Linked DNA regions of Homo sapiens: region 1 is linked to region 2. Evidence: fine-mapped expression QTL. A gene starts in region 2. The other region holds a variant in brackets. All regions are shown on one strand. Distances are from middle to middle.

The links.
Region 1: its variant is fine-mapped to the expression of SPG21 in whole blood (TOPMed, PIP above 0.99).

The regions. Positions count from the first base shown.
Region 1 is chr15:64,959,334-64,964,858 of GRCh38, forward strand. SPG21 (SPG21 abhydrolase domain containing, maspardin) reads right to left here. Exons shown (of 9, transcript NM_016630.7): 9 at 3,689-4,403. The coding sequence ends at 4,287. Among named protein-coding and RNA genes, the nearest start is that of SPG21, 28 kb to the right of the region's middle. The variant G/A (reference allele first, on the strand shown) is at 3,232.
Region 2 is chr15:64,987,983-64,992,982 of GRCh38, forward strand. It overlaps SPG21 (SPG21 abhydrolase domain containing, maspardin), which reads right to left and starts at 1,932. Exons shown (of 9, transcript NM_016630.7): 1 at 1,683-1,932. RefSeq lists enhancers at 1,139-1,640, 1,641-2,140, 2,196-2,265, 2,306-2,365 and silencers at 1,369-1,663, 1,466-1,515, 1,636-2,125.

The DNA of each region.
Region 1 (5,525 bases), 28 kb before region 2:
CTAATTGTGACTCTCCTTGTTTCTAAAATGTATATTTAAATCACTTTTCCAATGGATATTTACTTACAGTTACTCCCTCCCTTTTCTTTGAGACGGAGTCTTCCTCTGTTGCCAGGCTGGCGTGCAGTGGTGCGATCTCGGCTTACTGCAGCCTCCGACTCCCTGGTTCAAGCGATTCTCCTCTTCAGCCTCCCAAGTAGATGGAATTACAGGCACATGCCACCACGCCCAGCTAATTTTTTTTTGTATTTTTAGTAGCGATGGGGTTTCAACATGTTGGCCAGGATGGTCTTGATCTCCTGACCTCGTGATCTGCCTGGGTTGGCCTTCCAAAGTGCTGGGATTGCAGGCGTGAGCCACTGTGCCTGGCCCCTTTTTAAGATATATACTGTACTTAAAACTATTCACATATAGTCTGCAGGTTTATATACTTAAAAAGTGCGAAGTCTTTCTCCTGTGGATCCCAAGATAACTTCTAGAAGCGGGTACAGGCCCTGGATCACATCATGTATCAAAATGAACCCATAAAACTCCCAGGTTAAGAACTGAGGTGAAGGAGTCCCTGGCTCTTAGTGGAGGTTGCTCCCCGCATCTCTTCCTGTGTGCAGAGCTTCACTAAATGGTTACAGCCCCACTTCAGAGTTTCTGAAACTAGTCTGATTTCCACAACAGAGGTCCCTTAGTGTTCATGCACTGGCAAGTGACAAGATCAGACCTGTGTGTGGACCACACAGAGGATGGGTGGGGGTGGGAGGAGATGGCTGGTGGAGCCAGTGAGGACTGTAGTAGTCTGGGCAAAAGATGCCAAGGCCTAACTTGTAGTGAGGAAGGCTCAAGTTTGCAGGCAAGTTGCTAGATCTCTGAGAGTCAGGGGATATAGGTGTAGTAGATGTGGAAATGCATTGCCCGGACCCCCTTCTTCCAGGAAGGCCTTTCCATCCAGCTGCAGGAGTGAGCTGGGCAGATGGCCTCCAGCTGTCAGCCCTTCAGGGTCTGCCTCAGCTGCAGAGAGTTGCCCCACCCAACACCCTGCCCTCCCCAGGGCAGCTGCCTCTGGGAACTGAGCTACGCGGGAGCATAGAGACCCAGCCATTTTAGTCCTCCATGAAAATATTCCAGTGGGTGCTTCAAGCTCCTGCGTGCCCTACTGAGTTGGTGGGTACTTGATCGGGCCTGCATCACAGTTCAATTTCGCTCTCTGCCCAATCCATCTTCCCTTCACAGATGTTGTTTTTTTGTTTTGTTTTGGAGATTGAGTCTCACTCTGTTGCTCAGGCTGGAGTGCAGTGACACCATCTCAGCTCACCGTAACCTCTGCCACTCTGGTTCAAGTGATTGTCCTGCTTCAGCCTCCTGAGTAGCTGGGATTACAGGCACGTGCCGCCAGGTCTGGCTAATTTTTTTGTATTTTTAGTAGAGACTGGGTTTCTCCATGTTGGCCTGGCTGGTCTTGAACTCCTGACCTCAGGTGATCCACTCCCCTTGGCCTCCCAAAGTACTGGGATTACAGGTGTGAGCCACCACACCAGGCCACAGATGTTGATCCTTAATAAACATCTTGCACCCAAATTTTCATCTCTGCATCCGCTTCAGCCTGAGACATGGGGGTGGAGGAGTGAGTGGGGGTGGAGGGTCCAAGATGGCTGAGTTTCTAACTGGGGATTCCAAGAAATAGTGATGCCAGGACCTAAGAAAATGGGGCTAGAAGAGGAAGGGCAGGTTTGGGCAGTGGGGCCATGGGCATAGCTTTTGACTGGTTGCCTGTCGAAGGCTGAGATGCCTGTTGAAGGCTGGCCTAATAGGCCTGAGTACGCATTCAAGGCCAGTACTCAAAATTGATCAGGGCTGGCAATGACAACTTGCAGTCATCAGGGGGCAGAGCTGGGGAGTAGTTAAAGTTGTTAGACGGCTCTAGTAGCCTCAGACGCTACTAGTTAAAATGTCAAGCTTCGCCCTTATGGTTTACCAAGTGTTTCCATAACTCATGACTGTTGTCAAGCCACAGATAGAGAAGACAATGTGGCCCCTTTGTGGAAAGATCACTGGCTTTAGGGATGGTCAGATTCAAGGTGGCATCCCAGCTCCACCCCTTACTGCCTGACCCAGTCTCCAGGTCCTCACCTGTAAAGTCAGGATAATCAGGGCTGTATTGGGGATGAAGTCTAAGAAGGTATGGCCAACCCAATATTCTGAAACCTGGCACATAAAGGGAAAGAAGCACTGATGCTTATTTTTCTGTCTAAATTGTATCTCAGCGAAACCAAGCAGTCGATGAGGGCAAGTTTTTGTTTTTTTAAATCGGTAATTTCCAGTTAATAAATGCAGAAGGAATGATAAAAATTAATATTATCACTGACCTGCAACCCCTCATGGAATGATGCACCTGTGCAATGGTCAGCAGTGGCAGCTAAGCCAGCAGGGGACTTTCTCAGGACTGGATCAGGCTGGTGATGCCTGAACACACCCAGCAATCATAATAACTTAGACACAACCAGACAGATGCCTCCTGAGATGACGCGAGAGAAACACACAGCCCCATCTATGCAGTGTTCCTGCCAAAAAGATCGAGCTTGACCTGATCAAGCCTCTTGATGTAACTACCAGTTTACAGGAAATACCAGGGACAGAGAAACAAGTGGAAGGACACCATGAGGCCACAGTCAGCCAAATCTGGACTGTGGGGCAACTACAGGGCAAATGAACCTGTTTCTTCACTGAATATATGGCAAGAAAAAATAGAGGGAGGAGGAGCTTCCAGTTCAAAAGAGATCTAAGAGACAAAGTGTGGGCTTTATATGATTAGAACAAGTCACCTATAAAAAAAAATTTATGGAATAATTGTGAGTGACAACATTCACTGGATTATTAGACAATCCAGTGAAGGAATTATTGGTAAATAATTGAAGGAATTATTGGTAAATTTTTAAGTGTGATAATGGTATTAAGGCTGTATCTTAAAGGTACACATAGAAATATTTACAGATGAAATGACACAGCACCAGAAATGGCTTTAAAATAATTTAGTGATAGGAGCATGTGTGGAAGAAACGTGGGTAGGTTAAAAGATGAACAAGTCCGGGCATGGTGGCTCATGCCTGTAATCCCAGCACTTTGGGAGGCTGATGTGGGCAGATCACCTGAGGTCAGGAGCTCGAGACTAGCCTGACCAACATGGAGAAACCCCATCTCTACTAAAAATACAAAATTAGCCGGGCGTGGTGGTGCATACCT[G/A]TAATCTCAGCTACTTGGGAGGCTGAGGCAGAAGAATTGCTTGAACCCGGGAGGCGGAGGTTGCGGTGAGCCGAGATCACGTCATTGCACTCCAGCCTGGGCAACAAGAGCGAAACTCTGTCTCAAAAAAAAAAAAAAGAAAAGATGAACAAGACTGTCTGAGAGTTGATAATTTTTGAAGCTGGATGATGGGAACATCATTCATTATGCCATTTTCTCTACTTCATGTGGGTTTAAGCATTTTCACTCAGGGGAAAGAAGACGAGAAAAGTACCTGGCACACAGTAGCAGATCAATAAATGATAGCTTAGGGTTATTTTATGATGTGCAAACTGTACTTCAGGGAGATTAAGTAACTTACCCAAAGTCACACAGAATTGGCAACCATGACCTACTTCTCAGAAAGTCCTAGGCCTGTGTAGCCCAGTTGGGCAGCAACAATAATCACAAAAGCGACTCAGTTAAATTGAATTTTTATTCCAAATGACTAATATCTAGAAAGGCAGTAGCTAACACTCAAAACAATTTGTTTAAGTGTAAATTAAAAGCAGTTGATTTGCAGGAGAGCAAACAGTGGGGTAGTGGCCATGGCACTCTGATCATGGTTATATCCAAGAAAGCATAAAATAACCAATGTCCTGATATGCAATCTGGATGTGCAGCATTTACAGCAAACAACATAAAAAGAAAGAAAGAAGAATGGAAAAGAAAAGAAGAAAAAAACCACCACAAAGTCCCAAACCTCAGAAATTAACATTCACTTAAGAACACAGTGGTGAAGACTTTTGGTAGCAAAATTTGCACGGTTCTTAAAATGGGAGTCTTCAAAAGTACTTCTTCAAATTCAAAAGCTAAGAAAACCAAAGAGGGAACAGTTACACAGGCTTAGTGGAGATGCCGCCTGTCATGAAGATGACCATCAGTCCTACTTCCCAGACACAGTGAGAACCGGTGAGCCTGACGAACCTGAAGGAAAAGGCTGGCTGACGGGTGCTGATGCCACTGACTATACAAGAACACACCGGGTCAACTCATCATTGACAGCGAGAGACACACTACTGCTCCTCCTGGCTGATGCCAAGGCTGCCTTTCTGCACCTCAAGCTCCTCGGCACTGACCATTGATGGGTCAATGGCCGCGTATTTGGTTCCATGGAATTGCAGCAAATGTATCTGTTGAAATGCAGAATCATTATTTTATTTATTTTTTGAGCTGGAGTGTCACTCTTGTTGCCCAGGCTGGAGTGCAGTGGCACTATCTTGGTTCACTCCAACCTCCGCCTCCCGGGTTCACCCAATTCTCCTGCCTCAGCCTCCCGAGTAGCTGGGATTACAGGTGCCCGCCACCATGCCCAGCTAATTTTTGTATTTTTAGTAGAGACAGGGTTTCACCATGTTGGCCAGGCTGGTTTTGAACTCCTGGCCTCAAGTGATCCATCTGCCTCGGCCTCCCAAAGTGCCAGATTACAGGTGTGAGCCACTGCACCCTGCCAGAATCATTGTTTTAAATGGCTGCATTACAGAGTAAAATGTATACTGCCTTCTATAAAAAGTTTGGTAGGAAAACATCACCATAGTGGACAAATGTTTTATACTTCTAAAATTTACAGACTAAGACATACTAAATAGAGAAAAGTCAAACAATTTTTTGAAACCACATTTGGGATCTTTGTTCCTCACTCCCTGAGCAGTCTCCCTGAGTCCCTGCAGAGTCTCCTGAGACATCTTAGATGGTGCATGCTCATGAGATGTTTACCCTTCCCTTCTGCTGCTGTGAGTTAGGTCCTTCCAATCTTCTGCTACTGTGACTAGTGCTGCTATGATGAATATCTCTGGGCATCAAGTATTCCTGTTTAGGATCCTGTCTTCTATAAGGGGATGACAGGATCAAGGGATATGACTGGTTTTTGGGATTACAGGTGTGAGCCACCATGCGTGGCCAGGATATAACTGGTTTTTTAAGGCTCTTGATTCATCTTGCCAAACTGCCAGGGCACTCACCCCTCACTGCTATTCTATTATCCATTTAGTTAGAGTATGAAGGGATGGTGTTTGTTAGGGCTTTCTTTTCTTTTCTTTTTTTTTGAGACGGAGTCTTGTTCTGTTGCCCAGGCTGGAGTGCAATGGCGTGACCTCGGCTCACTGCAACCTCTGCCTCCAGGATTCAAGTGATTCTTCTGCCTCAGCCTCCCGAGTAGCTGGGACTACAGGTGTGCACCACCACGTCCAGCTAATTTTTTTTGTATTTTTAGTAGAGACGGTTTCACCATATTGGCCAGGCTGGTCTTGACCTCC
Region 2 (5,000 bases):
GAGATCACGCCATTGCACTCCAGCCTGGGCAACGAGAGCGAAACTCCATCTCAAAAAAACAAACAAAACAGCAACAACAACAAAAACAAATTAGCTGGGCGCGGTGATGGGCTCCTGTAATCCCAGCTACTTAGGAGGCTGAGGCAGGAGAATTGCTTGAACCTGGGTGGCGGAGGTTGCAGTGAGCTGAGATCACACCACTGCACTCCAGCCTGGGCGACAGAGTGAGACTCTGTCTCAAAAAACAAACAAACAAACAAACAAAAAAACCTGCCAGTTGTGACTATGCCCCTATCCCTCATGGCTTCAACAGAACCTGCCACTTTAAAGTCAACAAAATCACCTTTATCAATGTTTAAGTCACATAACCAGCATAATTAGTCAGAGGTTTCTGCTACTTTATTTCAATCTATAGTTGATGTGCATTGTGGAAAATCTGTGCTTATAAATACTAGCCATAACAAAATATTAGAAGCTGAGAGTCTCTGGGAGATGCAACTGGCTTTTTAATGCACGTCTCCATCCCTCACCACAGAAGTACACAGCTATCCTTTTCTTAGATCTCTTCAGGGGAGATCTATCCCTCTTTTCTTCATTGCATTATCTCTAAACCTTACAGGAGGAAAAGGTGCCTACCTGACATCTGTGACATCTCTTCTCATGCTCTTGGGAAAAAAGCTTTTGGAATTTGGACACAGCTATTAAGTTACTCCTCAGTGGCCAGCCGCGATGGCTCACGCCTGTAATCTCAGCCCTTTGGGAGGCCGAGGCGGGCGGATCACGAGGTCAGGAGATCGAGGCCATCCTGGCTAACACGGTGAAACCCCGTCTCTACTAAAAATACAAAAAATTAGCCGGGCGTGGTGGCGGGAGCCTGTAGTGCCAGCTACTCGGGAGGCTGAGGCAGGAGAATGGCGTAAACCCAGCAGACAGAGCTTGCAGTGAGCTGGGATGGCGCCACTGCACTCCAGCCTGGGCGACGGAGCGAGACTCCGTCTCAAAAAAAAAAAAAAAAAAAAAGTTACTCCTTAATTTGTTGAATCTTTGTGCCAAAAGGAGCTGAACCAGTGTAGGTGGAGACAAAGGAAGCAGCATAAATGTCTAACTTATAACTCCCCAGGAAAACGAGAAGAGGAAAAATGAGACACTCCGGTCCCGCTCTGTTCCTCATCCCCCGTTTACAAACCTTACACCTGGCCCACACTCAGTAACAACAAAGACATCTATCACTTTCAGGCCGAGGTCCTGTCTCCAAAATTACTGGCCTCTGCTCACAGTTCTTAAAAGTTTGCTGAGAAAAAAAAAAAGAAAGAAAGAAAGAAAGAAATGTTCCTGGGCTGCAGTCGTGTAGCCCCAGGATGGGTTTACAGGAGGATGCCCCGGTTAAGCCCTGTGCCGCCCCCACCTCCCGCTGGAGACTCACACACAGCTCCCCGCCAGTCCCACCGGTGACAGCCACACAAAGGCAGGGTCACAAGCACACCGACCACCCCACAGCCCAGATTCGGCCCCAGACACACACTCACAAGGGCACGTGATCACGTGCGTGGTCACATGGACCGGCCCACTCAGAACACACTCACAAAGTCACACCAACCAAGGCAGCCACGCGCCACACACACACACCTACAACCCCGCATACCGCACACCCAGCCGCTTCCCAGGGCTTCGCCCACCCTCACCTGCCGTGGCCGCCCCCACGTCCCTTCCCCTCCTTCAGGAGGCCGCTCTTCGCTCCAGTACGAGCGCGGGCCGTGGAGGCGGCTGGGCCCGGGTCGGGGCGGGCGGCGGAGCACTCGGGACCCACGGGCACAGCAGGCTGCGCGGTGCGTGCGGGAGGCCGGCCTCTGAGGGGGCGGGGCGCGTGGCCGAGCGAGCTTGGGCCGCCGCGCTCCCCCCGCCCGACCGCCGCTCAGCTGGCGCGAGACTCCCGCTTCCGGGTTCTCAGAGGGCGGGGCCACGTCGCGAGGAAGGGGCGGTGCTGCGTGGCCCCGGCGGTCGCCACGGCGACGGGCGCGGGGGGAGGCTCCGTGGGATGCTTGGCTGCGGCTGGCGTGAGGAGAGGGCTGAGTTACGTCTGGGTCAGCCTTAGTTCTGCCCTACGTACCTAGGAGGAGGAGGAGGTGGAGGAGGCGCCTGGCCCCTTGGGACCTGCTTCTTCTTTCAGTTCGCGTTTTCTCTGTCGTGTACAGCTTTGGAGGGACACCTTTGGGTTCCAGACTTTGATGAACACAACTTTGTATACTCTTTTCTTAGGAACATTTTTTTTCCTTTGGCACAACCGTAGACGCTCTCCGTAGTCCTCCACTCAAAGCCTCCGCTTCCTTTTTGACGTTCTGGGGATTTCTGGGAACATACGCCCACCCATCTTCCTGTTCCTTCATCACTTTTCCCTTAAAATCAGAGAGAATATTAATACATTTGTAATCATTGTTCTTAAGGTGTTGCAGACGTCACGTCTTAAGGTGTTCCAGACTTCACGACTCCTTTTTTATTAGTAAAATATTTCTGAAATTATGATAAGGTGAATAACATGTAAATCTCCTTGTTTTGAATTTTTTTTTTAGGGATCCTGCAACAAGGTCCTGTTGAAAGTGCCTCTCTCTAATATGTTTTAGGGAAAGCTTGTACCCTGTTTTAGGGCCTGTAGACTTTGCCTTTACCTAGGCAACTGTTTATGGGATTAAGGTCAGGGAAGATTCCAACTAAATTGCATCCTACTTAGTTATCACTTCTGTCCCCTGGCCCAGGAGCCTTGGGTTCCACTCTAGAACTTGGACAAATCCCAAAAGCATTTTCCAAAAGCACGGTGACATACTTACCTTTTTCTTTCTTTCTTTTTTTCTCTAAATCATTTCTTTCGGGGTTGCAACTCAGTCGCAGGAATTCATCTTTTATTGTAAGCACCACATAGATGTATAGAGCACGTTTCCGTGGAGTATTTTAAGTTGGGGGCCTTTTCTCCAACATTTGGAATCGTTTAATGGGTGGAATAACTTGCAAACTACTGGTTGTCTCTGAAACTGGTTATGGATATTCATTACATTAGTTGTCTATTTTCCCAGGTGGTCTCGAAGCTTCAATCTAGAGCAAAGGGAATAGAGTGATTCCACCAGTCCATTAGCACATGATTAGCCCATAAATAATAGGTACTAAATGTATATTGATTGTAATCCCAGCACTTTGGGAGGCCAAGGTGGACGGATCGCTTGATTGAGCCCAGGAGTTCGAGACTAGCCTGGGCAACCTGGGAGACCCTGTCTGTACAAAAAAATACAAAAATTAGCCGGGCGTGGTGGCGCATGCCTGTAATCCCCGCTACTCAGGAGGCTGAGATGGGAGAATCTGTTAAGCCCAGATGTCGAATCCACTGCACCACATCCTAGGTGACAAAGCGAGAGACCTTGTCTGCTCCCAACAAAAAACTATATTGAATGAATTAATGAGTGGAATAAATAAATCTATCCCCATTTCCACATTTGTTCCTAAAGCTGTATTCCTTAGACCCCATCCCTAGACCCCATTTAGTAACAGCTTTAATGAGACCTAATCTATGGATATACCCGTATGTTAAAAGTCATTGTTCTGTTAGTGTGGTAGTAAACTTTGACAATTGACAATAAAAAAAAATCACTATGTAGATATGTTTTGTTACATATCAACTTTTATTACAATGTAGACCAATCCAAAAATAATAAATGTTTTACTTCTTTCAGGAAGGGAAACCATGGTCATGTTTGTGTCCTCAGTTGTTCCATAACACATGGCAAGCACATTGTCCCTTTCCTAATCCCAACAAAGAACATTTAATATCTGTGAATTCCAGCTGAATTGTAATGCACAAATTCAGGCAGCAAACTTTTGATTCAGGCAGGTCCCAGTGCAGGCTGACCTGGTAGACATGGCTGTAAGGATTTGCAGCTGTTGTGGCTGGGGTCTGCCAGATGGTTCCCACAGCACCAATTCATCTGTGAGAATCTCACAGAAAAACTGGAATGTTCACAAAATATGCTGTGAACACCAAGCAAAGTAAACAGATGGCCAGCTGGCTCTCAGAATTACCCAAACCCGGGCTCTGTCCCTCTTAATTTATCTTTTCACAGGATAATATTTGTTTGAAAACACACAAAATAATCCCAGATCCAGAAATATCCCTATGCATGTGTATACATAAGTGAATGCACTTTTTTTTTTTTTTGAGACGGAGTCTTGCTCTGTTGCCAGGCTGGATTGCAGTGGCACATCTCAGCTCATTGCAACCTCCGCCTCCCGGATTCAAGCTATTCTCCTGCCTCAGCCTCCCGAGTAGCTGGGTCTACAGGTGCCTGCCACCACACCCAGCTAATTTTTGTATTTTTAGTAGAGACGGGGTTTCACCATGTTGGCCAGGATGGTCTCGATCTCTTGACTTCGTGATCCTCCCGCCTCGGCCTCCCAAAGTGCTGGGATTACAGGCGTGAGCCACTGCGCCCAGCTGTGAATGCACTTTTTAAAATGTTTGGAGAGGTATGTACCAAGCAGCTAAGTGATTACCTCGGAGGAGGAACTGGGGATGGAGGGAGTGGTGAAGAACTTTGACTTTGGATTTAATAGTTGAGTTTATATTAAAATGTATTCATATATTATCTGTGTGATCAAAATAATTAAAAGCAGCCAGGCATAGTGGCTCATACCTGTAATCCCAGCACTGAGGGAAGCCAAGGCGGGTGGATCACTTGAGGTCAGGAGTTCGAGACCAGCCTGGCCAACATGGCAAAACCCCCATCTCTACTAAAAATACAAAAATTAGCCGGGTGTGGTGGTGCACACCTGTAATCCCAGCTACTGGGGAGGCTGAGGCAGGATAATCACTTGAACCCACCTGGGAGGCGGCAGTTGCAGTAAGCTCAGATCATGCCACTGCACTCCAGACTGGGTGACAGAGTGAGACTCTGTCTCAAATAATAATAATATTAATAATAATTAAAAGCAACTATATTTCTGTAATTCCTCTGCTATAA